Regions from separate parts of the Homo sapiens genome. Here regions 1, 3, 4, 5, 6 and 7 are each linked to region 2. The links come from fine-mapping of genetic effects on gene expression. A gene starts in region 2. Each other region holds a variant in brackets. All regions are shown on one strand. Distances are between the middles of the regions.

Region 1 (4,066 bases), 110 kb before region 2:
GGGGGTCAGTTCCCTGTCCTCAAGGAGCTCACTTTGACTCTGGGGCAAACCTAGTGTGGGTGGTCGGCATCAGCCATTGTCCATGTGGGGAGACTGAGGATCAGAGGGGCACATCCAGCCTGGGAAAGCCAGACCACGCGCAGCTCTTGGCATTGTCTTCACCTGCTCCGTCAGCAACACCACCCCCTGGGGGGCAGCTGGGTGACCCCCATCTCACAGCAGGGGAGACAGGGCTTCGAAAAGCCCCTGTGCAAAGCAGAGCTGGGACTTGAGGCCACCGGATTTGGTGCAGAGGAGACAGCTTGGATCCAGGGACAAGCTCTGCCAGCAGGGAGGACAGGACTGGGTGATGGGAGCTTAGTTTTGGAATAAAAAAATCTGCAAAGGAGCCTATCTGTCCAGTAAGCACCACAGAAACAGAGTTCCCAGTGGCAGCCACCATTCCTTGAGGGCCTCCCCTGTGTCTAGCACTTTCCAGAGTTTTCTCTCTGATTCCTCCACTCAGACCTAGTAGGGACAACTGCAGGGCCTGGGCTGCAATGGTGGGGCTGGGCTGCAGTGGTGGGCTGGGCTGCAGTGGTGTGTCTGGGCTGCAATGGTGGGCTGGGCTGCAGTGGTCGGGCTGAGCTACAGTGGTGGGGCTGGGGTGCAGTGGTGGGCTGAGCTGCAGTGGGTGCAGTGGTGTGTCTGGGCTGCAGTGATGGGCCTCAGCTGCAGTCGTGTGTCTGGGCTGCAGTGGTTTTTCTGGGCTGCAGTGGTGAGGCTGTGCTGCGGTGATGGGGCTGGGCTAGCGCTTCACGTGTGGGTCTCTCACGCCTGGTAAACCAAATGCCCTGCAGCAAGGAGTCCACACAGGAGCCTGCCAGGGGCGGCTGCTGATGGCTCCGGCTTCTGCACCACTTGCCCGGGGATGTGGGGGCTCCGTATACCCTAGTATTGTTACCAGAAAGGAGTCCCAGTCCAAACCCCAAGACAGGGTTCTTGGATCTCAGCTGAGTATACTTATACTGATTTCTGGATTATAGGCTCAACAACAGGTGGATTGTTTGTGAGTTTTCCAAGAAAGGGGAGGGGATTTTTCTGAACTGAGGGTCCCTCTCCTTTTTAGACCATATGGGGTAACTTCTGGACGTTGCCATGGCATTTGTAAACTGTTGTGGCACAGGTGGGAGTGTCTTTTAGCAGCTAATGTATTATAATTAGCGCATAATGAGCAGTGAGGACAACTGGAGGTTCCTTTTGTCGCCATCTTGGTTTTGGTGGGTTTTGGCTGGCTTCTTTACTGCATCCCATTTGATCAGCAGGGTCTTGGTGACTTGTATCTTGTGATACTAATCCTGCCAACCTCCTATCTTATCCTGTGACTAAGAATGCCTAACCCCCTGAGAATGCAGTGCAGAAGGTTCAGCCTCATTTTACCCAGTCCCTATTCAACATGGAGTCGCTCTAGTTCACTCGCCTCTGACAGTGATGATCTATCCTTTACTGGGGCTCAGCCTTCACCCACTGAGGGGCCCTGGATGGAAGCATGTGTTTGCTTGGTGGGGATGACAAGTCGAATTTCCCAGCCCCTGTGATCCAGAGGCTCTTCCAAGACACCGGGACTGGAGAGGAGTGGGGGGCCTAGATGGGGGTGGGCACGAGAGGCTGGTGATGGCTTCAAGAGGGGAGGGGCACACTTGCCAGGAAGAGGCTGAGTGCAGCAGAGAGCAGCGGGACTGACATTTGAGGCAAGGGTCCTGTGGAGGGAGGAGGGAAGAAGTTGGAGAGTGATGCC[T/C]GGAGGCCAAGGTGGCACCACTGGGCCCTTCCGCAGCTCCTGGGGGGAAACTGGGTTGGGCCCAGGTGAGCAGGAGGGAAGGGAGGGTTCACCCTGGGAGTGCAGGATGGGTGCTGGTTTAGGGTGAGGACCTGGGGAAGCAGGAGAGGTTAGGAGAACGACCACGCTGAAAGTGAAACCGCCTTTGCAAAAACTCTATCAATTAGAAAAATTGTAAGAGTGAGCTGAGCTAACCCGCCCCTCATCTTTCCTTTCCCTTAATGATTCCTGGGCTTTTGGGCTGAGCTAACCTTGGGAGACATTTAATTTATAGTTTAAATAACAGCAGGCCTCCCCCAAAACTCTTCTGCCTGTGTAAACCTAATGAAAAGCTATGAGGCGAGAGGGAGAAGCTAAGGTGTAGACCTCTCTAGCAAAATACACAATTTCCCCAACTGTAGATTGGTCTTTTGAGATATCTTTTCAGGTTTTTTGCAGGTCTGATACCCATGGCTCTACCTGGAACCCCCAACCTCACTCCTGTGACACCCCCCTAAGAAGCGATTTAGCCTGCAGGAGGACAGCTTTGACCCTCCATGAGTTCATGTCTGCCCCAGCCAATCAGTACCTGTTACTTGGCCACCCCTGACCCCCCAAACTGCCTTGAGAAACCCCTAGCTATGAGCCTTTGATGAGATGATTTGAGTACAAACTCTCTCTACCATGTGGTTGGCCTCATGTCTATTAAACTCTTTCTTTACTGGAATGCATGGTCTTTATTTAGAAAGGGAGCAGGAGGAACCCCTTGGGTGGTTACAGAGGGCAGGATGAAATCCCTTTGAAATGAGCAGTACAGAACTCCAAAGGAAGAGATGGGGTCTGTGTGTTTCTTCTGCCACCTGAAATAATTGAAAGGTTCAAAATCCAATGTTATAGAGTTTATTCGAACTCTAAGTTTGACGACCACCACTCAAAAAACACAGACTCTAAAGGAATGGGCTCAGTGCTCTGAGGTGGAGGGATTAGGGCTTCACTTAAATGGGAAAATACAAGGAGGTTTAGCATGATTACATTTTCCACATAAGATTGGCTTATGAGTTGCAGCAATTTGTTTGGTTATATCCTGTTCCCTTCGGGAAAAGTATATTTAACATACTGTCTTATGGAATTTGATAGGCATGGGGTCTTTTGTACCATCTGGTCTGAGTTGGGTGCAAGAAAAGAAAGAAGTTAATTCGTAACAAAAGGTCAGTAACTAAGAAAGGGAAGGGGTCTTACATCTGGTGCCATTTAGTCTTTCATAACATTTTACAAATCAAGAAAGGAAGAGCGTTAATCTATAATTGGAGAAGCAAAGTTCACAGCGACTTGCTGCTTGACTAGGGTGTCAGAATCACATTCTTTCAAGGCTCGAAGTAATTTAAAGTTCCAACAGCTTTAATCTGATGAGCTTATTGTCGACAAAAAGAGTCAAACTCTGAAAAATATTTGAAGAGATTTATTCTGAGCCGAATCTGAGTGACCAATGGCCCGAGACAGAGACCTCAGGAGGGCCTGAGAACATGTGCCCAGGGTGATCTGGGCACAGCCTAATTGTATACATTTTAGGGAGACATGAGACATCAATCAAATACATGCAAGATCCACATTGCTTCTGTCCAGAAAGGTAGGACAACTCGAAGGTGGAGCGGGGAGGTTCCAGGTTATAGGTAGATTCAAAATTTTTTTATTGGCAATTGGTTGAAAGAGTTATTATCACTAGAAAGGAGTGTCTAGGTTATGATAAGGGGTTGTGGAGACCAAAGTTTTATCATGCAAAGGAAGACTCCAGGTAGCACGCTTCAGAGAGTATAGATTGTAAATGCCACTAATCAGACTTAAGGTCTGTGTTAATGTTCATGCTGGTCAGCTTTGCTGAATTCCAAAAGGGAGGAGGACATAAATGAGGCATGTCCACTCCACCTTCTCTTCACAGCCTGAACCGGTTTTTCAGGTTAACTTTGGAGTGCCCTGGCCAAGAGGAGGGGTCCATTCCGATGGCTGGGGGAGTGGGCTTAGAATTTTATCTTTGGTTTACACTACTTTCAAGCTGCGAACATCATAAGCCACCTTCTGCCAGGTGTGGCCCTGGGGAGGGGTCCCTTAACATGTGATAGGAGGTGCCACCACGGCTAGGCAGCTACTTGTCATCAGGACACAGAAGAGCCTCTTGGACCTGGGGAAGGACCTGTGAGACTGTGAAGAGGAAAAGTCAGTTTTGAATCAAACCCATTTTATAAATAAGAAAAATTACAAAACGCTTCTCAGAAG
Region 2 (4,066 bases):
CATCTTCCGCTTTTGTGGCAGATGCTTCTGCTGCAGAACTGCCACATCTGCTTGGCCTCCAGGCCACCCCTGGAGAGTTTCACAACACTGACATGGAGCCAGAAGCCCTCGAACACAGACCTGGAGCAGCCCGTTCCAAGACAGACTCCAGTACTGCCAATCAAAACCTGCTGCCTAGAGCCAACTAGCAGCACCTGTATCCAGCCCAGCTCCTAACCCGGTGCCCAGAACAAGGCACACACAGTACGTCTGCCAAGTGAGTAAGTGGGATCTAGGGCTCAGTGCCGGTTTGACCACCAACCACGACCCTGAGTAACTCATGCCTTTTTACTCAAGAATCTAGATGTATTCCACTGCACTAAGATGCACCATTCATCCATTCAAAATGCATTTAATAAGCAGCTACAGTTGGCCGGGCACGGTGGCTCACGCCTGTAATCCCAGCACTTTGGGAGGCCAAGGCGGGCGGATCACGAGATCAGGAGTTCGAGACCAGCCTGACCAACATGCAGAAACCCCATCTCTACAAAAAAATGCAAAAATTAGCTGAGCACGATGGTGCTTCTGTAATCCCAGCTACTCGGGAGGCTGAGGCAGGAGAATCGCTTGAACCTGGGAGGAGGTGGTTGCTGTAAGCCGAGATTGCGCCACTGCACTCCAGCCTGGGCAACAAGAGCGAAACTGTCTCAAAAAATAAAAAATAAGCAGCTACAGTTACTAAGTAGCTTAGTCAGGCACTAGTGGTTGTTGTGTTATGTAGAAAAATATATCAATTCAGTAATGGCTCACAGAGCTCTCTTAACAGCTTTCCATTTTTACAACTCATCGTAAATGTAAAGAGGGAAGAATGTACACAGAAAGTGCCTTTAAGCTCTCAGAGGATGAGTTCCATCCGCTGAAAAGCACCAGGGGCCTTGCGGATACTATTTTTTTTTTTTTTTTTATAAAAAGGCAGGCCTGGGGCAGGCTTGCACAGCACTCTACACACGGCAAAACAGCCCTGTGCTGCACACTGAGAGGAACACGTAAGCCGCGGTGGTTAGATACGCTTTACTTTCAGAGCCCTGGGCTTTCAGCCTGGGCTGGCCACCCATTAGCTGGATGGGACGTTCGGAAGTAACTCTCGAGCCTTCTCTGTAACAGGGGAACGACCAAGGAGCTACCTCTCGCGTTGTGAGGACAAAGCGCTCGCTACATGCCCGGCACACGACCACAATTCCACTGAAAGCATTTTAATACGGAACTTGTCACTCCCAGGGAGCCTCCGCTCAGCCGGCAGTTGGTTCATTTCAATCCCCACGACAACCCTTCAAAGTGCAGGGCAGACAGCAGGTGGCTCTGCCCAGGCGCCTGGATCACAGCCCGGCCTGCAGCCCTCACCTGGGCGCGGGGAGACCCTGAGGACGCTCCTCCAGGCGGCGCTGGCCGGGGCCTGCGGACACGGACGGGCGGGCTGAGCTCCGGGACCCCTCCCCGCGCCCCGCACCCCGCACCCCGCACCCGGCGCTCACCCGTCCCAGCCCCGCCGCCCGCAGCCCCAGCTGCAACGCAGCCACCGCCGCCATCGCACCCGGCCCCGCGGGCGCTTCCGGGACGCAGGAAGCATCTGCATCCGGGGCGCCGCTGAGTCCCGCCCAGAGCCCCGCCCCCGGCTCCAGGTTCTGCGAGCGGCTTCCGCCGGGCTGCTCCGCGGGCGCGTCGGCCATGAGCGAGTTGCCGGGCGACGTGCGGGCGTTTCTGCGGGAGCACCCGAGCCTGCGGCTCCAGACGGACGCCCGCAAGGTTCGCAGCGCGGGAGGGGAACGGAGTGGCGGAGAAGGGCGCAGTTGGGATGAGGGGCTGAGGGGAGGGCAGGGGAGAGGAGAGGGCAGGGGAGAGGGGAGAGGGGAGAGCAGGAGAGAGGGGAGGGCAGGGGAGAGGGCGCGGCGGGATCAGGGGAGGAGAGGGAAGGGGGCGCGGCAGGAGGGGGCACCAGGGAGCGGAGCCCTGGCCCTCCTGACGTCCTGCCCGCCCACGCGTCCGCAGGTGAGGTGCATCCTGACAGGTCACGAGCTGCCCTGCCGCCTGCCGGAGCTCCAGGTCTACACCCGCGGCAAAAAGTACCAGCGGCTGGTCCGCGCCTCCCCGGCCTTCGACTATGCAGAGTTCGAGCCGCACATCGTGCCCAGCACCAAGAACCCGTAGGTGGTCCGCGGCGGCGCGGGGAGGCCCAGGGCAATTAGGACAGCCCCTCCGCTGGACTCCGCCAGTGCTGCAGCCCCTACTCTTTCAGAGTTGGGAGCCCTGGGACCCAGGTGGGCGCCCGGGTGCTGGAATCACCTGCGGTCCCAGCGGCGAGGCCTCTTGGTGAGCTCGTTTGCTCACCTGAGGTTTGTCCTGTGGGGTGTGGCTGCTTCCCAGATGAGTAGAGGCTTGTGATTTGTCACCTGAGGTTGTGAACAGCGTTGGGTTCTTCCCTTAACCCCAGAAGGGGTCTTTGATTTAGCTGGGAGCTAGGCTTTGTAATAATCGTCAAAACAGAGATAGGATGTTTCCATTCATTGAGCCCTTGCTCCAGGTGGAGCCATCCTCTTGCATGAACTCATCCTGGAGCAGTCAGTGAGGCTGCCATGCGTGCTTTTCCGGTAAACATTAAGAGGCTGCAGTCGGCCTGGGTCAGACGGTTCCCCACCCAGCTTCAGAGTGGAATTGCTCCGGGAGCCTTTAAAAGCCCGATGTCCAAGCCGCATGGTAGACTGTCCAGGGATGAGTCCAAGACACAGCCACCAGTCTGAATCCTTGCTGTGAACTGTCCCTACAAATTTGGTCTCTCTGCTCTGTAGGCACCAGTTGTTCTGCAAACTCACCCTGCGGCACATCAACAAGTGCCCAGAACACGTGCTGAGGCACACCCAGGGCCGGCGGTACCAGCGAGCTCTGTGTAAATGTAAGTCCCAGTGGACCCCCATCAGTGCATCGCCATCTGAGTGCATGCCCGCCTTGCCCCAGATGGAGCGTGCTTGAAGGCAGGTCGTCCTTCAGCGATCCGTGTTGATGCATCAGGCCTGTTTTTTGGCACAGTGAAGAGAGGGATGATGGCCCCTGACCCCACAGCTTTTAGTGCAGGCAGGCACAGAGCCAGAAGCAGGCTCGGGAGTGAGTGAGTGTGCGTGGCAATGCGAGGTGTGAAAGAAACTGGGCGAGGGATGTGGGGTGGGCTTGCGGAGACAGGAGGGCTGGGGAGACTCGCTGAGGGATTCGCTCGAGGCTGAGGCTGGAGGGATGTGGTGGCAGTGGGGTCGGGGGAACAGCACCCCAGGGAGAAGCCAGGGTCCATGGAAGTCTGAGGCAAAAATGTGTTGGCTGAGGTAGGCTCCAAAGGACTGGCTGGGCTAGTGTGCACAGCCCGGATGACCCAGAGACCAGGCCAGGAGCACTGCAGTGGGTGTGTGGAGAGGGTTGGGTGGGGGCTGCATGGACAGTGTGCATGGTTGAGAAGGGAGGACTCCTTGACTGCGGTCATCCAGGAAAAGACGGTGGGTTTTGGGGGGAGAATTCAGAGTCCCTTTGAAGGTTTTAAGCTTGAGCTGTATTAGGAAAGGTGTGTATTAGGGAAGTATCGGGCTTTTGAAACAGGGACACCCGTGCTGGATGAAGGAGATGGTTGCACCGTGGATCTGGGTGAGCACCCGGCGAGAGTTTAGAGAAGGGAGAGAGGCCTGGTCCTGAGCCCCAGGAAGAGGCTGGAAGTCCTCCCGTGGTACTGAAGGGAAGATGAGGACAGAAAAATGATAGATTTGATAACACAGAGGCCCCTGGCAACCTTGGTGAGGCACCTGAAGCTTGGCAGGGACACCTGGCTAGAGTGGAGCGTAGGCTGCAGCCCATGAGGGCAGTGTCCGGCCTTAGGCAGGTGCTGGGTCACCAGAAAGCCTTTCTGGAGTCCAGCTAAGGAGGGAAATGGACAGAGGCTGGAGCGGACAGATTCAGGTTGGTTTGCGGATGGGAAGATGCGTCTACGGGCTTCTGATGAGTGCGGAGAGGCAGTCCAGCCCTCCCGAAGCATGAGTGTGGATTGAGAAGGCAG
Region 3 (4,066 bases), 39 kb before region 2:
TGACCCAGCCATCCCATTACTGGGTATATACCCAAAGGACTATAAATCATGCTGCTATAAAGACACATGCACACGTATGTTTATTGTGGCATTATTCACAATAGCAAAGACTTGGAACCAACCCAAATGTCCAACAATGATAGACTGGATTAAGAAAATGTGGCACATATACACCATGGAATACTATGCAGCCATAAAAAATGATGAGTTCATGTCCTTTGTAGGGACATGGATGAAATTGGAAATCATCATTCCAGTAAACTATCACAAGAACAAAAAAACAAACACCGCATATTCTCACTCATAGGTGGGAATTGAACAATGAGAACACATGGACACAGGAAGGGGAACATCACACTCTGGGGACTGTCGTGGGGTGGGGGGAGGGGGGAGGGTTAGCATTGGGAGATATACCTAATGCTAGATGACGAGTTAGTGGGTGCTGCACACCAGCATGGCACATGTATACATATGTAACTAACCTGCACATTGTGCCCATGTACCCTAAAACTTAAAGTATAATAATAATTTTTAAAAAATGTTTTTCTTTGGGAACTCCTATTCTGTTTATATCAGAGCCTCTCAATCTATTCTCCATATATGTTACCTTTGAGTGTGTGTACGTGTGCATTTGTATATGTGTGCATGTGTGTGTATGTGTGTGTATGCATGTGTGTGTATATGTGTGTGTGCGTGCATGTGTGTGTATTGTGTGTGTGTGTGTATGTGTGTGTGTGTTGTGTTTTTCAAAGCTGCTGCACTCTGGTTGGTTTCCTCCACTCCATTTTATTGCTAGATACAGGCTGGAGTCTCTGAATCTATTTGTAACACCTCAGTTTCTCTTTTGAATTTTTCTTTCTTCATTGACTATGTTAGTACTATCTTCCATGACACTAAGTCTCTTTTCTACTATGTCAAGTCTGGAATTTATCCTATCTATTGTGTTTTTTATTCACTCTACTCTTCATCTTCAAAATTTATAATTATTTCTACTTTCTCTCTCCTTATTTCTTTATATTCTGGCCACTTCTAATTTTATACTACTTTTTAAAAAAAAAGTCTGGTGTAAGTTCCTGTACCAATTGCTCATTTTTAGCCTGCCTTTCTTAGTGTGGTGTTTCCTTGGGTAATTTGGAAACTGGCCTTGCTTATTTCAAGGTGAGGATATTGTGTCTCTGCATTTCTGCCTTTCTCTGCCATCTTGTTGTCATTGTCCTCTGTCTAGCAGTGTTTTGTAGCCTCTGCTCCCATCCTGGGTCCCAGGCTTCTGCTCTGCAGTGATGCAGAGCATGTCACAGATAAAGTCATCCTTTCCGAGGACGGCTTGTCTCAGCTTCTGCCCTTGAGGCTGTGTTGATGTCCTCTTGCCTTCCTATGCCCACAGTGCTCCACTAAGTTATACGAAGTTACAGCTCTGGGATGTATCAAGGAGGGTTTCTCAGCCTCCTTTCTGGAGTCAGGGAAGACACACCCATCACTCCCAGGAGGTGGATCTAGGCCCTCTCTGCCTGCCTTGGGACTTGGAGCTGACAGGCCCCTGCCTCTGCCCCATCACCAGCCTGTGCTTCTCCTCCATTCCTTGTTTTATGTGAGTGTGTGTGTGTTTGTGCATGTGTGTGCATGTATATATGTACACACCTGCATACACACACACACACCTGTCTTGGTCTTCTGTCTGTCTGACCTATTGCTGCTCTGTGTGTGGAGCAGAGAGGGTCCTTACTGCACACCTTGCTCAGGACAGTGGACACCGTCCTTAAATGCACACGGTATCGTGTTCACACAGGAGGGTCCCTTTTTTTCCATGATGAATCTGAGGCCAAGTAACCTGCCCAGAGATGCAGGAAGCTCAGCCGAGCCCCAAGCCCACGACCCTCGGACTCCAACCCCAAACCCCCTTGACGGTGTGCACGTCAGCCCGTGTGGGATGGCTGGGGGGCGCCTGTTACTGCCGCACATGTCCCCAGGAGGCCTGCACGCCCTTCACTCCCTTCAGTTTCCTCCCAGGTGAAATCTGCAAACCCGCTCCTCTGGACCTGGTCCTGTCCGGATGATCCTCTGGAATTAACAAGCTGTTATTCACCAGCCTCCAGCAACAATGGCACGTTACCTGCTCCATTGCAGAACTGGCCGTGGTTTACATCCAGGAAGGGATTGGTCAGTCACCTGTGCCAGGTCCCCGGGGGATCCTGAGCCCAGCGGTATAAAGGGTGGCTGTGGGAGTGGCACACCCTCTCCCAGCCCCAGCAAGCAAACCGTCAGGCGGCCGTGGACTCAGATCCCGGAGATGAAGCCCCTGCTCCTGGCCGTCAGCCTCGGCCTCATTGCTGCCCTGCAGGCCCACCACCTCCTGGCCTCAGACGAGGAGATTCAGGATGTGAGGCTTGGATGGGAAGGGTGGGCTGGAGGGGGCAAGGGGCGAGGCTGAGACTGCTGGATG[G/A]AGACCACATCCCTCCCCCATCCAAGGAGACCCTCATTTTCGGGTTGGGCGTAAAAGCCCTGCCCTGAAAGATGGTGAGATGGGACAGCAGGAGTCTGGGCTGGGGGGACAGGGATGCAGAGGGGCAGAGCTGGGAAGGTGGGGGTCTGGCTGACTTCACTTCTCTCCTGGGGGTGAGGGCTCCTGTGGTCCTGGCCAACTTGTGGGGGCTGGAGCCACCTTCGGGTGGACCTGGCGAGGGTGCTGGGTGTTTTCTGGGTGGATTAGATTGGGGAATGTTCCCCGTCTCCAGCCTGTGGGGTGCGGTAGAGTCTGGGGGCTGCAGGCCAGGGAAGGGGGAGGCTCTGGAGCGGTCGGCCTGAGCCTGATAGAGAGGGGCCTTCTCCAGGTGTCAGGGACGTGGTATCTGAAGGCCATGACGGTGGACAGGGAGTTCCCTGAGATGAATCTGGAATCGGTGACACCCATGACCCTCACGACCCTGGAAGGGGGCAACCTGGAAGCCAAGGTCACCATGCTGTGAGTGTCTGCCAGCCGGCCGGCCAGCCTGCAACCTGGTCTAGGGCCTTCCCTTTCCCCACCCAGGAGAGCTCTGGTGCTGGGGAGGTGGGCAGACCTGCTGGGAGGCCTCTCTCAGCCCCTCCTACAAGGCTCGGCAACTGGCAGCCTTGAGGGCAAACTGTGCCACTGAAGAACCTCAGCTGGAGGGACCCTGAGGGGGCAAAGGCCCCGGATCAGACCCTGTGAGCTACCAGGGGCAGTGCTGGGTACCACCCACCTCCTCCTAGGACTGAGGAATGTGATCTGCGTGCTGAAGCCTTCTGCTGAGCTGGGGCAGAGGTTTCCGTCTCCACCACCCCCCATTCTCTCCGACCTTGTCAACACCCTCAGATGAAAGTCGAGAGCAAAGGGGCAGTGCTCAGCAAGATACACCTGACAGAGAACGCTCAATGATGCCAGCTGCTGTCATTATTGTGCTAATTAAATACAGAGTAATTCTGGAAGAAAGTGTAAAATAATAAAAATAATAGCCAGGTGTGATGGCTCAGATCTGTAATCTCAGCACTTTGGGAAGCCAAGGCAGGTGGATCACTTGACGTCAGGAGTTTGAGACCAGCCTGGCCAACATGGCAAAACCCCATCTCTACTAAAAATACAAAAACTAGCCAGGTGTGGTGGTGCACAGTTCTCCTGCCTGGTGGTTCACATGATTCTCCTGCTTCAGCCTCCCGAGTAGCTGGGATTACAGGCACACACCACCACACCCAGCTAATTTTTTGTATCTTTAGTAGAGATGGGGTTTCGCCATGTTGGCCAGGCTGGTCTTGAACTCCTGACCTCATGATCCACCCGCCTTGACTTCCCAAAGTGCTGGGATTACAGGCGTGAGCCACTGAGCCCAGCTGTAAGGTTCTTATACTAGATGAAGGTAGACTGTGATAAATTAAAGACATACTATAAACCCTAAAGCACCTGTTAAAGTCAACAAACAAACAAGAAAACAAAAGACTGTCAGTGAATAAGACAACAAATAAACTGAAAAGATTGTTTTAAAAACTAAATTCAAAAGAAGACCAGTAAGAGGGAAAGGGGCCTGGCGCAGTGGCTCACGCCTGTAATCCCAAC
Region 4 (4,066 bases), 24 kb after region 2:
GTGTCAACTGCAAAGGGTGGCTGTGAAGTGCTTGGCACCATGCCAGGCACACAATGGCTTCCTGATTGTACCAGTCACAAGATTGGTTACTTTCTTGTTGGAAACCAGTTGGGAGGTGGATGCTGGAAGTTGAGGTCACAGAGGTCTATAGAGAGTGAATAAGCCCTTTTTCTCTGGGAGGTTCTTGCACTTGAGTGCCCAGCTGGTCCTCATTGCAGGTTGGGGGAGGGATACAGGGTTGTAGAAGAGCTCCAGAATCGGCCCCAAATAGGTGAGATCAGAGTTCTGCCATTGAAAGGCTTCTTGCCCTCCTTGGGCCATTTCCTCTATTGCAAGATGGGGTGGAGCCACTTGCTCTGCCAGCCTGACAGGGGAGTTAGCAGGGCCAGAAAAGGAGTTGGAGCTGGGCTTTTGGAAAGGGAAAAGTTGTGTGCATTTCCTGAAAGCTTCTCTCTTCCTTGCTGATAGGTTTTGTACCAGCTGAATCCTGGGGCCTTGGGGGTGAACCTGGTGGTGGAGGAAATGGAAACCAAAGTCAAGCATGTGATAAAGCAGGTAAGAGGCCAAGCCTGTGCATCCCATGCCGGGTGGTTCTGTGACTGTGATTTTCCCCAATACAAGCTCTTCCCATGTTGGAGAAGCTTCCTGATGCGGCAGCTGGATTCCTCGCTGCTGACACTTGCGGAGACTAATCTGGTTGGGGTAGATGTGGGGGTGCGTGAAGCTCTGTCACCTTGATGGGGAAGCAATGCTAATTTTTACTCCAACACCACCACCTCCCACCATTTACGCATCACGTGCTGTATGCCAGGCACTGACTCACTTCATCTCCCGTCAACCCTGTAAAGCAGAAACAATGACCCTGTTTATAGCCAAAGACAGTGAGGCTCAATGCAGCGCCAGACTAGGCAAGGTCACACAATTTCCAAGAGGATTTGAATTCAGGCCACCTCACTGGGGGACACCGTGCTACCCAGTGCTGGGTCACCAGTTTTACCAAAAGGGAGCCAGGCCCAGAGAGGATGGGGACTGGCTCAAGGTCACACAGGGCTAAGGTCACACACCAGGCCCTGAGCCCTTCCACCACACTCCTCACCAGGGCTAGCAGGGCATGGGGAGGTGTAGGCCTGCAGGAAGACAGCCCTTTGTGTGTCCGAGACAGGGAGGTCCAGATCAACAGAGGGACTAGGGTGAGAAAGCTGCTGCAAGAGTCCCTGGCATGCCCTCCTCTCTGTGGTGGTGGCAGGGACCCAGCAGGTTCAGGGCTGGCCATACAGCGGGAGGAGCCTTGTCAGCAGCTGCTACTGGGCCAGGCCTCAGTCCGTACAGCTCCGCAGTCTCACCCTGTATGGCTGGGCCTGGAGTCCTTGCCCCTGCCCTGCTCCCTTGCTGGCTGGCTGTGGGGTTGGCCCCCTTGTCTCACAAGCCACTGGGGCAGTGTGGCTGACTGCCCTCTGAGCAGTTAAGGAGCTTTTTTTTTTGTTTGGAGATGGAGTCTTGCTCTGTCGCCAAGGCTAGAGTGCAGTGGTGTGATCTCAGCTCACTGCAACCTCTGCCTCCTGGGTTCAAGCAATTTTCCTGCCTCAGCCTCCCAAGTAGCTGGGACTACAGGCACACGCTGCCACGCCCGGCTAATTTTTTGTATTTTAGTAGAGACAGGGTTTCACCGTGTTGCCCAGGCTGGTCTCGAACTCCTGGAACTCCTGAGCTCAGGCAGTCCGCCCGCCTCGGCCTCCCAAAGTGCTGGGATTACAGGCATGAGCCACCGCGTCCGGCCTGAGGAGCTTTTAAAAATGTCAGCCATGACTAGGCATGGTGGCTCATCCCTGTAATCGCAGCATTTTGGGAGGCCGAGGCAGGCAGATCCCTTGAGGTCAGAAGTTTGAGAGCAGCCTGGCCAACATGGTGAAACCCCATCTCTACTAAAAATACAAAAATTAGCTGAGCATGGTGGTGGGTGCCTATAGTCCCAGCTACTTGGGAGCTGACGCGGGAGAATTGCTTGAACCCGGGCGGCGGAGGTTGCAGTGAGTCGAGATTGCGCCACTGCACTCCA[G/A]CCTGGGTGACACAGCGAGACTCTGTCTAAATTAATTAATTAATTAATTAAATTAAAAATAAAAATATCACCCAATTATTTCTAAATAAAAATTGGGGAAAGAGAGTGTAGGTAGGAGTTTATGGGTTCTTCCAGTCTTTTTTCCTAAGCGTTTGTAAACTTTTTTGGATTCAGGAGAATGGTATCGTTAAAGTTGATAGCATCCTTTTTATATTGCAAACATAGTTTCATGTCATTCCCACAGCCTCCTCCTCTCTTGGCTCTGGCAACTGTGTGGCCTCCCGTCTTGCTTGATGTGCTGTAACTAACCCAAGCCATCCCTATCACATGGGCTGAGCATTGAGCTTGTTCTCAATTTTTCACTTTGTGTAAACAGCTCTGATAAAGATGCTTATGGCATTATGGTTTTGTTTGTTTTTTTGTTTTGTTTTGTTTTGTTTTGTTTAGCATCCATGATTTCCTTAGGAAAAATTCCTAGGAGTGAGATTTCTGGGTCATACGATGTAACTTTTTTTTTTTTTTTTTTTTTTTTGAGATGGAGTTTTGCTCTTGTTGCCCAGGCTGGAGTACAGTGGTGTGATCTCAGCTCACTGTAACCTCTGCCTCCCGGATTCAAGCGATTTTCCTGCCTCAGCCTTCCTGAGTGGCTGGGATTACAGGCACGTGCCACCACATCCAGCTAATTTTGTATTTTTAGTAGACGGGGTTTCTCCATCAACATGGAGAGGATGGTCAGGCTGGTCTCGAACTCCCGACCTCAGATGATCCGCCTGCCTCGGCCTCCCAAAGTGCTGGGATTACAGGCGTGAGCCACCCCACCCAGCCGCTTTTTTTTTTTTTTTTTGAGACGGAGTCTCACTCTTGTTGCCCAGGCTGGAGTACAATGGCGTGATCTCGGCACACTGCAACCCCCTTCTCCCAGGTTCAAGTGATTCTCCTGCCTCAGCCTCCGAAGTAGCTGGGATTACAGGCATGTGCCACCACGCCCGGCTAATTTTGTATTTTTAGTAGAGACAGGGTTTCTCCATATTGGTCAGGCTGGTCTCGAACTCCCAACCTCAGGTGATCCGCCTGCCTCGGCCTCCCTAAGTGCTGGGATTTCAGGCGTGAGCCACTGTGCCCGGCCACAATGTAACATTTTCAAGTCTTTCCATGTTTTGGCCAACTTCACCTCCTCATATGCCCCCTAGGACAGGAGGAAAGGAAGACAGGAAGGCTCACTCAGTGTCTTTGCCCTGGATTCCACGGGACAGTGCCACTGGCATCTCAGGTCTCTCCATAGATCTGGGAACAATTCACTAACTTTACATGATGGTCTGCATTCACCCCATTATAAGAGTACTTCATTCATAAGTCTTTTGAGCAAAATTCTGGGTGAGGATCTGGTATTAGAGCCAGTGGTAGTATATACCTAGGGCCTGTGCCACCAAGCGTGCTGCAGACTCAAAGCTCCGTGCTGCCCTTGCCACCACCCTTCCCTTTCCATGCCCTCCCCACCTCCACCCGGAGAGGGCACAGGAGAGAAGAGCACTGTACATTCCATGCGTGGAGACAACCTTCCCCATGTGGGTAAGGAATGAAGTGGTGAGATTGATGCTTTCCCAACCAGAACAAGATGTTCCTGTTTAAAGACGGTCTGAAAATGGATCCTTTACTGAGTTCTTGGAGCGTATATTATGCTGTCCTAAACTTATCTTTGCAAAAGGAGCAAAGATGTTCTCATTGCTCTAAGTATTTTTAGATCTCTGCCTTAGGAATATCTTCCATTTGTGCCATATGGTGGGGGCAGGAATGGTGGGAGCCTGTCACTCCTGCTAAATAGTGATGATGGTGGTGATGATGGAGGTGGCAATGATGGTGGTAGTGGTGGTGATGGTGGTGGCAGTGATGATGGTGATGATGATGGTGATGATAATGGTGATGGTGGTGATGGTGTGATGATGGTGATGGTGGTCATGGTGATGGTGTGATGATGGTGATGGTGGTCATGGTGATTATGGTCGTGGTGAT
Region 5 (4,066 bases), 840 kb after region 2:
AAGTTGCTTCTATGAAAAGATTAATATAATTGACAAGGCTCTGATCAGACTGATCAAGAAAAAAAGAGACACAAATTACCAATATCAGAAATGAAAGAGGGGATATCATTACAGATCCTACAGATATTTAAAGGTTAATACAGAACATTATAGGCTGGGCGTGGTGATTCATACCTGTAATCCCAGTGCCCTGAGAGGACAAAGCAGGAGGATCACTTGGGAGGCCAGGAGTTTGAGACCAGCCTGGAAACATAGCAAGACCCTGTCTCTACAAAAAAAATTTTTTTTAATTAGCTGGGCTTGGTGGTTGTGCCTGTCATCCCAGCTACTCAGGAAGCTAAGGCAGGAGGATTACTTGATCCTGGGAGTTAGAGGCTACAGTGAGCTGTGATCGCACCACTGTACTCCAGCCTGGGTGACAGAGCAAGACCCTGTCTCAAAGAAAAAGAAAAAAAAAAAAAAAAGAAAGTTGGTATTAAAACAATAAAACGATAGAAAATATTTGGAGAGTTTTAAGCAGGGGGATGATGCAGTCAGGTTTGTGACTTTTGGAAGGTTCATTCCAGCTCCCCTCCATAGAGTAGATAGGAGAGTTGCTGGAGCAAGGTGGGCAGAGTAGTTAGAAGCCACCTTAATCATGTAGGCAATGATGTGCATTAAGGAGCTGGTGCTGGCGCTGGTGCTGGTGGTGATGGCAGCTTCTGGAGGAAAGTCTGATGGGATAAACAGTGTAAAGTGATCACATCAACTAACGTAGGGACAGACTAGATTTGGGGGTGAGGGTTTGAGGTTTCTGGTTTCTGGTTTCTGTAATTAGGTAGATGATGAGATAGAGAACACTGCAAGAGGATTTCCTACAAAAACCAAGCCAACAGACAAATAGCTGGGCATGATTGTGTGGGCCTATAGTCCCAGCCACTTGGTAGGCTGAGGTGGGAGGATTGCTTAAGCCCAGGAGTTAGAGTCTGCAGTGAGCTATGATCGCACCACTGCACTCCAGCCTGGATGACAGAGAGAGACCTTGTCTCTAAAGAAATAAACAAAAAGAATGTTACAAACAATTTTATGTTCCCACATTTTACGACTTAGAAAAAATGGGCAAATTCCTTGAAAGACAGTTACCAAAGCTCATTCAAGAAAAAATAGATGGTACCATATAAATTAAAGAAATTAAATTTGTTGTTAAAAACCTAACAACAATACAAACTCTGGGCCTAGACGACTTTCCTTGTGAATTCTACCAATACTTAAGAAAGAATTAATGCCAACTCTACACTATCTCTTCCAGAAAATGGAAGAGGAGGGAACAATTACCAACCCTTTTTATGAGGCCAACATTACATTGATATCAAAACCAGACATTGCAAAAAAAAAAAAAAAAAAAAAAAGAAAAAGAAAGCTATAGAGCAATATTCCCCATGAGCAAAGACACGTAAATCCTCAATAAAATACCAGCAAATCAAATCCAGCAATATATGAAAAGGATAACACATCTGACCAATGAGGTTTATGCAAGGATGCAAGTCTG[G/T]TTCAACATTCAAAAAACAATCAGGGCTGGGTGCAGTGGCTCGCATCTGTAATTCCAGCACTGGGAGGCCAAGGTGGGTGGATCACTTGAACCCAGGAGTTGGAGACCAGTCTGGGCAACAGGCAAAACCGTGTCTCTATGAAAAATAAAAAAAATTAGATGGGCATGGTGATGCACACTTGTAATCCCAGTTACTCGGGAGGCTGAGGTGAGAGGATCACCTGAGCCCGAGGAGGTTGAGGCCGTAGTGAGCCACTGCACTCTAGCCTGGGCAACAGAACGAGACCCTGTCTCAATAATAATAATAATAATAATAATAATAATAATAATAATAATAATAACAATAATCAGACCAGGTATGGTGGCTATAACCCCAGCACTTTTAGGGGTTAAGGTGGGAGGATCACTTGAGACCAGGAGTTGGAGACTAGCCTGGGCAACAAAGTGAGACCCCTATCTCTACAAAAAATTAAAAAAATTAGCTGGGTGGGGGAGCACACCCATGGTCCTGGCTATATGGGAGGCTGAAGCAGGAGGATTGCTTGAGCTGAGGAGGTTGAGGCTGCAGTGAGCTGTGTTTGTGCCATTGCACTCCAGACTGGGTGACAGAGAGAGAGAGAGAGACCCTGTCTCAAAAAAAAAAAAGGAATTAATGTAATTCATCATACCAACAGATTAAAAAAGAAAAACCATATGATCATCTTAATAGATATTGAAAAAAGCATTTGACAAAATTCAACATCTACTCATGAAAAAAACCTCTCAGCAAACCAGTAAGAGAAAGGAGTTTCTTCAACCTCATAAAAGGCATCTACAAAAAACCTGCAGCTAATATCTAATTAATAATGAAATACTAAATATTTTCCAAGATCAGAAAGAAAGCAAAGGTATGCAGTGTCATTATTGTACTGGAAAGCCTAGCCAGTGGAATAAGGCCAGAAAAAGAAATAAAAGATATACAAATTGGAGAGGAAGAAATGAAACAGCTTCTATTTCCATTCAATATGATTATCTATATAGAAAATCTCAAAAAATCTATGAAAAAGTTATTAGAACTAATATTAGTGTGCCAGGCATGGTGGTGTGCACCTGTAGTCTCAGCTACTCAACAGGCTGGTGTGGGAAGATCATTTGAGCTCAGGTGTTTGAGACCAGTCTGGGCAATAAAGTAAGACCCTTTCTCTAATAATAATAATAAAAGTAGCACACTGTTTCTGGTCACCTTTGAGACTGGCTTACTCTGGGTCTGTTGCTCCAGACTCAGCTTTCTTAGACAGAGCTCATTTTGTCAAGTGCAGTGGCTCATGCCTGTAATACCAGCTACTTGAGAGACTGAAGTGGGAACTCCAGGAGTTTGAGGCTGCAGTGAGCTATGATTGCACCACTGTACTCCAGCCTGGGCAACAGTGACCCCATCTCTAAAAAACCCAAAAAACCAAGTGTAGCGATGTCATAAGATACAAGGTCAATATAAAAAGAAGTAATTATAATTTTGTGGACCAGAAATGAATCCTTTGAAATTGAAATTAGAAAGGAAACAATACCATTTACCATAGCACCAAAACCTGTAAAATGCTTAGGTATAAATTTAACAAAACATGTACAATGTCATTATGCTGAAACTGAAAAACACCAATGAAAGAAATCAAAGAAGACCTGAATGGAGAGATATACTATGTTCATGAATTGAAAGACTCAATATGGTTAAATTGTCAATTATTCTGAAATTTGGGATTTAATACAATCTCGATCAAAATCTCAGCAGGAGTGTTTATAGAAATCAACAAGCTGATTCTAAAATGTATATGGAAAGGCAATAGACTAGAAGAGCCAAAATATCTTTGAAAAAAGAACAAAACTTGGAGGGTTCTCACTGTCTGATTTGAAGAGTTACTTTAAAGCTATGATAATCAAGACAGTGCAGTGTTGGCAAAGGGTATACAAATAGATCAGTGGAACCAAAATACACTACCATGTATATATACTTAATTTATTTTCATCAAAGTTACAATATAACTCAATATAGGACCATCTTTTAAACAAATGATTCTGGAACAATTGGACATTTGTATGCAAAAAAAAAAATGAAATTTGACTCACACATTGCACCACATACAAAAATGAACTCAAAACACAACCTAGGCCGGGCACAGTGGCTCCCGCCTGTAATCCCAGCACTTTGGGAGGATCACCTGAGGTCAGGAGTTTGAGACCAGCCTGGCCAACATGAAGAAACCTTGTTTCTACTGAAAATATAAATATTAGCTGGGCATGGTGGCCCACGTCTGTAGTCTCAGCTACTTGGGAGGCTGAGGCAGCAGAATTGCTTGAACCCAGGAAGCGGAGGTTGCAGTGAGCCAATATCGTGCCACTGCACTACAACCTGGGCAACAGAGCAAGACTGTCTCAAAAAACAAGCAAACAAACAAAAAACAGAACGTAAACTAACTTTTAAATCTGAAACTATAAAACTTTTAGAAGAAAACAGAAAAAAATTTGTGGTTTTGGTTTTGGCAAAGATTTCTTATATCTGACAAC
Region 6 (4,066 bases), 28 kb before region 2:
CTCAGCTACTCAGGAGGCTGACAGGAGAACTGCTTGAACCCAGGAGACAGAGGTTGCAGTGAGCCAAGACCGCGCCATTGCACTCCAGCCTGGGCAACAAGAGCAAAACTCTGTCTCAAGAAAAAAAAAAGAAAGAAAGAAAGAAAAAAGAAAAGAAAATTGGCAAGGATACAGAACTTGAACTCCACTGGACCTGACATTAAAACACTTGACTCAACAAGAGCAGAAAACATTCTTCTCGAGCACACACAGAACATTTACCAGGAGAGACCACAGTCTGGGCTATGAAACAAACCCTGTTAACTTCAAAAAGATTCAAGTGGTTTTTTGTTGTTTTTTGATACACGGTCTCACTCTGTTGCCCAGGCTGGAGTGCAGTGGCAGGAACATGGCTCACTGCAGCCTCAACCTCCTGGGCTCAAGTGATCCTCCCACCTCAGCTTTCTGAGTAGCTGGGACTATAGGCATAGGCGTGGGCAACCGCCCCAGGGTGATTTTTTAAATTTTTTTGTAGAGACAGGGTCTCGCTGCATTGCCCAGGCTGACCTCAATCTCCTGGGCTCAAATGATCCTCCTGCCTCAGCCTCCCAGTATCGGGATTACAGGTGTGAGCCACCACGCCCCAGCCAAGGACTCAAGTTATACAAAGTATGTTCTCTGACCACAATGAAATTCAACTAGAAATCAGTAACAGAAAGATCTCTGGTAAATTCCCAAATATTTGGAAACTAAATGACATACCTTTAAATAACTCATTAGCCAAAGAATAAATCAAAGGGAAATTAGCAAGTATTTTGAACTGAATGAAAACACAACATATGAAAATTCGTCAGGTATCACAAAAGCAGACTGAACTTTTTAGACCTTACAAATGCATGACTGTCCCCCTTGCCTCTGATCTTCTGCCTGGGGTCTGCCTTTCCCCAATCTTTGTTCACTATACTGAATCCTACATGACACAGTCAACCTATGAAGAAATCCAGAGATAGACTCTCTAAAATAAATGGATTTGGGAATAGCAGCTTATCTGGAATACTGCAACCGTTGAGGATGGTCTTGCAGTGAGTCCTGTTATTGGTCTGTTTGTAGAAATGTCTTGTGGTAAGTCCTGTTGCAGGAATGTGTGCGTGAGGGCTGCTTCATCACCTCCAACTGTTTTAGTTTGACATAAGTGACTCCATTTTGGTACCGGCAACGTTCACAACTTTCCATGTGACTTCAGCACCCTGCACCCCGATCCTTTCCCTGGCCACTTTGCAGGACCACTACCTATGAGACTATGGGTTCCTTGAGAGCTAGGGCTGGGTCTCATTCGCTCCTGAAACTTTCACCCAGCAGAGTGATGGCCCACGCCATGCATGACATGCGTTGCTCAATGACTGCATCCACTCAGCCAGTATGCCAGTCCCCACTGAGCCTCACTCTCAACCTCCCTGGCTGGCATAGGTTCCTTGTGCAGACATCCAGTGGCAGTAAAATATTGCTGGGTTCTCAGCTTCCCCCACCTGCAGCCCTCACTGGCCCACCCAGTTGTCCTGTCTCTGCTCAGGACGAGACCCCCCCCCGCCTCTTCAGTCTCTGTAGCCAGGTGATGGCAGTGGCCTTTTCCAGACCCTCACTGGCCCCTTAGTTCACTATGATGACTTCACCTCTTGGGAACCCATGGGGATGTCTTTCCCTCCAATACATCTACATTTGCCTGACCCAGAATGTAGTTTCAAGATGGGTCCATGCCTGGCTCCAAATCCCCTTATCAGAGTAAGGAAATACCTTAATTCCTAGTTTGCTAAAAACTCGTTATAAATGGCTGTCGCGTCATTTACTGTGTTCCTGTTCTGCAACCATTGAGATGGTCA[C/T]GTGGGTTTTGCTCCTTTAATCTATTGATATGAATTACACTCTTGATTCTCTGGCATTGAAACTGCTTTGCAATTCTGAATTAAATCCAGTGTGGCACTTTGCTAAACTTGGTTTATTATTGTCTAAAATCTTGACATTGGTATTTGTAGGGACCAGCCCCACAGGGTCCGTGGGTCTCTCCCTCCCTGTGTGCAGCAATGAGAGAGTGTAGAAATACACACACAAGACAAAGAGATAAAAGAAAAGGCAGCTGGGCCCGGGAGACCACTACTACCAATGCTCGGAGACCGGTAGTGGCCCCGAATGTCTGGCTGCATTGTTATTTATTGGATACAAAGCAAAAGGGGCAGGGTAAAGAGTGTGAGTCATCTCCAATGATAGGTAAGGTCACGTGGATCACGTGTCCACTGGACAGGGTGCCCTTCCCTGCCTGGCAGCCGAGGCAGAGAGAGAGAGGAGACAGAGAGAAAGACAGCTTATGCCATTACTTCTGCATATCAGAGACTTTTAGTACTTTCACTAATTTACTACTGCTATCTAGAAGGCAGAGCCAGGTGTACAGGATGGAACATGAAGGCGGACTAGGAGCGTGACCACTGAAGCACAGCATCACAGGGAGACGGTTAGGCCTCCAGATAACTGCGGGCAGGCCTGCCGGATGTCAGGCCCTCCACAAGAGGTGGAAGAGCAGAGTCTTCTCTAAACTCCTCCAGGGAAAGGGACACTCCCTTTCCCGGTCTGCTAAGTAGCGGGTGTTGTTCCTTGATACTTTTTGCTACTGCTAGACCATGGTCCACCTGGCAACGGGCGTCTTCCCAGACGCTGGCGTCACCGCTAGACCAAGGAGCCCTCTGGTGGCCCTGTCCGGGCATAACAGAAGGCTCGCACTCTTGTCTTCTGGTCACACCTATGTCCCCTCAGCTCCTATCTCTGTATGGCCTGGTTTTTCCTAGGCTATGATTATAGAGCGAGGATTATTATAATATTGGAATAAAAGGTAATTGCTACAAACTAATGATTAATGATATTCATATGTAATCATATCTAAGATCTATATCTGCTGTAACTATTCTTGTTTTATATTTTATTATACTGGAACAGCTCGTGTCCTCTGTCTCTTGCCTCGGCGCCTGGGTGGCTTGCCGCCCACAGGTATTTGGTAACTTCCCTTTCTCTTACCTAGTTTTGGTATCAAAGCTAAGTTCACGAATGAAGTGTTCTCTCAATTGATTCTGTTAGAATTTGTCTACGTCTGGAATTACCTGTTCTCTATATCGTGGAACTTCCCTGTAAAACCGTCTAGGGGAACATTCTTAACTACTGACTCAATTTCATCAGTGATTACAACTCAGGCTTTCTATTACTTTTAGTCAGTTTTGGAGATTTTTCTTCCATTTACTTTGAGTTGTTCCAACTTAAGCTGCATGCTTATTTTTCTTTAGCTTTAAAAATACAGACATACAGCGTATGTGTGTATAAATGGCACTATTTATCTGTAGATGCACATACATTTAGGGGCTATGTTTTTTTGTGCTGCTTTAGCTCTGTTCCACAAATCTTAAATTTTTTCTTTTTGAGACAGTCTTGCTCTGTCACCCAGGCTGGAGTGCAGCGGCTCGATCTTGGCTCACTGCAGCCTCTACCTCCTGGGTTCAAGTGATTCTCCCGCCTCAGCCTCCCAAGCAGCTGGGACTACAGGTTTGCACCACCACACCCAGCTAATTTTTTATTTTTAATAGAGATGGGGTTTTATCATGTTGTCCAGGCTAGCCTTGAACTCCTGATCTCAAGTGATCCACCCGCCTCCCAAAGAGCTGGGATTGACAGCATGAGCCACCATGCCAGGCCCTGTTCCACAAATTTTAATACGTAGCATTTTCATTATCCTTTAGTCCCAAATATTTCTAATAGCCATTCGGAATTCTTTAACTCATAGGTAATTTATAAGTGTGTTTTAAAAATTCCAAATATGAAATGCCACTGCACTCCAGCCTGAGTGACAGAGCAAGACTCTATCTAAAAAACAAAAAAAAATAGCTCAAATTTTTTTTAATGACATTGGGATACGGTCAGATAACGACACTGATTCCTTGAAATATCTTAAGACTTCTTTTCTGGACAAAGTAGGTGGTCAGTTTCCATCCATGTTCCATATATGCATGGAAAGAGTATGTATTCTTTTCAGATACTGTTGTGTCTGTCTCTCAGC
Region 7 (4,066 bases), 47 kb after region 2:
CTGCCTGACTGGCTCCCAGGGACCAGGATGCGTGGCCTGGCCGGGCAGGGCTCCCTTCCGGTCCTTCACTCCATTAGGCCACAGGGATTCATGGAGGCCTGCTCTGGGTCAGAACAAGGCAGACCTCGGTTTCCTTCATGCAAAGTGGAGATGCTATCCCCCAGCCTGTGAGCCTTGTGTGTCTGGCCCCATGCCTGAGCTGTGGGGCTAACCCCAGGCGTCTTCCTCTGGCTTGAGCAGCGCTGGTGCACCACCCGGAAGCCAAGGCTCCCTGCAACCAAGCCATCACCTCCACCCTGCTGAGTGCTCTTCAGAGCCACCCCGAGGAGGAGCCACTTCTTGTCATGGTCTACAGCCTGCTAGCCATCACCACAACCCAGGGTGTGTCTGCCAGCCACCTCCTGCCCCACCCACGCTCCAGGACAGCCCTTCCCAGGGGTCTTGGAAGGGTTGGTTTGGGGTATAGGTGGGTTGGACAGGACAGTGCTGGGCCTCCTCCTGAGATACATGGTGGCATTTGGCCGTCTTCATTTGGCCACCCCAAATGCTGGTCGCATCCTTTTCCATCTTGATGACAAGCTTCCACTCTTGAAGTCACTGGTTCCCTCTACAGACATGCTAGGCGCAGCTGTGGGCTTCACACCAATGACATCTCTTTCCCACACTTCCTGCCCCTTCTGGGAGGCTGGGGCTCAAATGCCCTGTGTGTCTCCATTCCATAGGGCCCAGTGGGCTTCCGAAGCCTCCAGCCAGGACTGTGGGAAGGAGAGGGCCATACAGAGCGCTCACACCTTCACCCACAAATCGGGTGGGCACTGTTCTCCCCAACAGGAAGCTGGGCCTCGAGAGAGCCTAAGGACAGTTGCCAGGAGTCCATGCAGCAGGGTTCAGGGCTGGGGTCTGGGCCCCAGCACCCTCTTTACTGCACAGACTGGATAACTGATGATACATGGCTGATCTCACTTTGGGGAGTGAAAGGAGGCACTAGGAATAGATGTCAACTGGAACCCTCAGGCAAAATGGATGTCAGTTCATCCTACCGGGATAGGGCCCCGTCATGGTTCCATCCTGGAAGGCACAGGCTGGCTCTGTGAGCCCAGGAGGCAGGGTCAGGCCCCCTGGATGGGAAGCTACAGAGGTCAGACCCAGCCTGGTAGTGGGATGGCAGCTATTGGGACTGGTGGCCCACGAGATGGACAGACTCCTCTGGGGCCAGTCCCACATCCTCCTGTTCAGGGCTCCATTGAGTGCACACGACTTGGCCCAGAGCAGGCACCTAGGATTGCAGGTCAAATGGGACTGCAGTGCCCAAGGACAACAGAGGCAGGAAGGCTTCCTGGAGGGAGGGGCCCTGGGGCCCTCATTCTGGCTCACCCACAGAGTCAGAGTCACTGTCAGAGGAGCTGCAGAATGCTGGGCTGCTGGAGCACATCCTGGAGCACCTCAACAGCTCCCTCGAAAGCAGGGACGTCTGCGCCAGCGGCCTGGGCCTGCTCTGGGCCCTCCTGCTGGACGGTGAGGGGCCCTCCTCCTGCTGTCCCACCGGGGCTGGCAGCCCTCCCCCAGCCCCTCCCTAACTGCCCCTGAGAGCCTTCGAGGACCTCCATGTCCTGTCCCTAAAACACAACAGCCATAGTCCGGGAAAGGCTCTTCTGAGAGCTTCCAACTCCAACAGAAGAAAATCAAGGAGCAGAGAGAGAAAAGGCAGGGGAGAAAGGCCTTCTGGCAGAGGCCGGGTTTCAGGACTTCTTGCCCAGTGGGCAGACCCCTCAGTTTTAAGTGCCTCCTGCCCAGGGAAATGTCCTGGGATTTTCCGGGCAGTCCTGGTTCCAGAGGGCAGCGGTGGTGTGGTGCTGGATGCCCTGTTTGTTTTGATTTTTGATTCACAGTAGGGGGCCCCCTGGCCTGTGCTGCTTCCTCTCCTCTAGACCCCATCTTGGCACTCCAGCGCCCCAGGAAAAAGAGAGCTCCAAACCACGGAAAGCCCGGGAAACCCAAGAACCCTGCCAGCACCCAAAGTGTGGGATTCTCCAAGCCTCTCCTGGGCTAACCCCTGCACCCGTCTCTGAGGACAGTTGACCTTTCCCACCCCATTTCTGCTGTTGTCGTTAGCTGGAGGAAGGCAGCAGATGGGGGATGGGAAGGCCCCCCTGCACACACCCAAGGCCTGGGTGTCCCCTTCCATCCCTGTCCTCGTTCCAGGTATCATTGTGAACAAGGCCCCCTTGGAGAAGGTCCCGGACCTCATCAGCCAGGTGTTGGCCACCTACCCTGCGGATGGGGAAATGGCAGAAGCCAGCTGCGGAGTCTTCTGGCTGCTGTCCCTGCTGGGTGAGCTGG[G/A]TGGGCGCCCTGGGCCCCTGGGGCTGGGAGGGGTGGGCCTCATGGCACAGCAGGCACAAGGCAGCCCGGCCCCTTTCTGCAGGCTGCATCAAGGAGCAGCAGTTTGAACAAGTGGTGGCGCTGCTCCTGCAAAGCATCCGGCTGTGCCAGGACAGAGCCCTGCTGGTGAACAATGCCTACCGGGGACTGGCCAGCCTGGTGAAGGTGTCAGGTGAGCCTGGGGACAGGACGAGGCTGCCACCTAGAGGTGGGGGCAAGAATCAGCCCCCATCAGTTACATCTGCCAGGTGCCACAAACCAAAAAACAGAAGCAACAAATCAAAAAGGAAAAGAAATTAAAAACGATCTGAAGTCCAGTCATCCAGAAATCACCATCAAGACTTTCACGCACACTTGATAAACTCTTGTCTCTGCGTTATGCTACCCTGTGACCCTCTCTCTGTCCATAAACACATCACATCTGCACAGGTTTCCTAACATGCAGGCACACCGTGACTGATCAAAACAGCTCTGCAAACAGTGTCTCCAATTCCCCACAACACAAACCCTGCCTGTTACTCAGCTAGACAGGCTGGGCCCAGCGCTGAGCACAGCACAACCGACGCTCGGCCCACAGCACAGTCCTTCAGAGAGCATCCTGGGCCTGGCCAAGACACTAGCTGGTGCCTGGCAACTCCGGGCTCATGGTCTTGACCTCTGTACTACCTAATCTTCCCCAGAGTGACAACGACCCCTTTGGCTCTGGGGGGGCTGCCTCCTCTGTTCTTGCATGGTCCTGTTCAGGTCATGCCAGCCTACTGGTCCGCCCAAGCTGATGGGGCCTCCTGGGTCCCGTCTCTTGTCCTGTCCCAGGCCCCTGTGTGAGCTCTGGGGTCCCATCCCGTCCTGGGCAGAAGGCTCTTCCCTTTCAGGGGAAAGCAGGGAATGAACCCACTCCCACCCATCCCCCAGAGCTGGCGGCCTTCAAGGTGGTGGTGCAGGAGGAGGGCGGCAGTGGCCTCAGCCTCATCAAGGAGACCTACCAGCTCCACAGGGACGACCCGGAGGTGGTGGAGAACGTGGGCATGCTGCTGGTCCACCTGGCTTCCTATGGTGAGAACCCCTTCTCACCTCACACTCCCTAGAGCCCAGCGGTCAGGGGTGCCCCGCTCCCCCTATAACTGACAGGGAAGGAGCACATGGAAGGTGGGCTCAACCCCACTTCTCGGCCCACTTAAACTTCCCACTCATTTGGCATCTTCTGAGCACCAGGGGTTGTCCTGGCTGAGGGTGACGCTTGGGGCTCCGGAACTGCAAGGTGGCTCTGTGCATGCCAAGCCCAAGGGGGAATGTGACCCACTCTCATCCTTCTGGGGCTTCTGGCAAGGGGCACAGGAAGGACTCTGGCCTCAGGACCTTCCTGCTCCACCTGCAGAGGAGATCCTGCCGGAGCTGGTGTCCAGTAGTATGAAGGCCCTGCTCCAGGAGATCAAGGAGCGCTTCACCTCCAGCCTGGTGAGTGACAGCAGCGCCTTCAGCAAACCAGGCCTCCCTCCAGGTGGAAGCCCCCAGCTGGGGTGCACCACGTCTGGGGGACTGGAATAGATGTTTGTATGGAACTGACCTTGATCTCCACGTGTATAGTTTTCAAGACTGCTCTCCTGCCTGCCTATTATCCCATCTCTATGACTGGGCCAAAATCAATCTTAAACGGGAGGGGTAATCAGACCTCTCCAAAGAGTTTCCT

Evidence for each region.
Region 1: its variant is fine-mapped to the expression of SURF1 in lung (GTEx, PIP above 0.99). The same link has a PIP of 0.9 or more in unexposed skin.
Region 3: its variant is fine-mapped to the expression of SURF1 in whole blood (GTEx, PIP above 0.99). The same link has a PIP of 0.9 or more in substantia nigra.
Region 4: its variant is fine-mapped to the expression of SURF1 in whole blood (TOPMed, PIP above 0.99).
Region 5: its variant is fine-mapped to the expression of SURF1 in testis (GTEx, PIP 0.98).
Region 6: its variant is fine-mapped to the expression of SURF1 in whole blood (TOPMed, PIP above 0.99).
Region 7: its variant is fine-mapped to the expression of SURF1 in whole blood (GTEx, PIP 0.98).

Annotation. Positions count from the first base shown.
Region 1 is chr9:133,247,162-133,251,227 of GRCh38, forward strand. It overlaps the pseudogene ABO. Among named protein-coding and RNA genes, the nearest start is that of OBP2B, 40 kb to the left of the region's middle. The variant T/C (reference allele first, on the strand shown) is at 1,778.
Region 2 is chr9:133,354,889-133,358,954 of GRCh38, forward strand. It overlaps SURF1 (SURF1 cytochrome c oxidase assembly factor), which reads right to left and starts at 1,599. Exons shown (of 9, transcript NM_003172.4): 1 at 1,512-1,599; 2 at 1,381-1,432; 3 at 1-69. The coding sequence starts at 1,565. SURF2 (surfeit 2) reads left to right here and starts at 1,662. Exons shown (of 6, transcript NM_017503.5): 1 at 1,662-1,782; 2 at 2,026-2,180; 3 at 2,823-2,926. The coding sequence starts at 1,705. RefSeq lists silencers at 1,401-1,520, 1,761-1,830.
Region 3 is chr9:133,315,507-133,319,572 of GRCh38, forward strand. It overlaps the pseudogene LCN1P2. Among named protein-coding and RNA genes, the nearest start is that of SURF6, 19 kb to the right of the region's middle. The variant G/A (reference allele first, on the strand shown) is at 2,441.
Region 4 is chr9:133,378,568-133,382,633 of GRCh38, forward strand. It overlaps STKLD1 (serine/threonine kinase like domain containing 1), which reads left to right. Exons shown (of 18, transcript NM_153710.5): 2 at 469-555. Among named protein-coding and RNA genes, the nearest start is that of STKLD1, 4.2 kb to the left of the region's middle. The variant G/A (reference allele first, on the strand shown) is at 2,057.
Region 5 is chr9:134,198,091-134,202,156 of GRCh38, forward strand. The region is part of intron 1 of LOC124902298 (a long non-coding RNA gene); the gene reads left to right. Among named protein-coding and RNA genes, the nearest start is that of RNU6ATAC, 36 kb to the left of the region's middle. The variant G/T (reference allele first, on the strand shown) is at 1,529.
Region 6 is chr9:133,326,825-133,330,890 of GRCh38, forward strand. It overlaps SURF6 (surfeit 6), which reads right to left. Exons shown (of 5, transcript NM_006753.6): 5 at 1,952-4,066. Among named protein-coding and RNA genes, the nearest start is that of SURF6, 7.3 kb to the right of the region's middle. The variant C/T (reference allele first, on the strand shown) is at 1,857.
Region 7 is chr9:133,401,498-133,405,563 of GRCh38, forward strand. STKLD1 (serine/threonine kinase like domain containing 1) reads left to right here. Exons shown (of 18, transcript NM_153710.5): 13 at 241-381; 14 at 1,381-1,515; 15 at 2,203-2,331; 16 at 2,423-2,551; 17 at 3,292-3,432; 18 at 3,755-4,066. The coding sequence ends at 3,924. Among named protein-coding and RNA genes, the nearest start is that of REXO4, 14 kb to the right of the region's middle. RefSeq lists a silencer at 1,213-1,380 and an enhancer at 3,121-3,621. The variant G/A (reference allele first, on the strand shown) is at 2,341.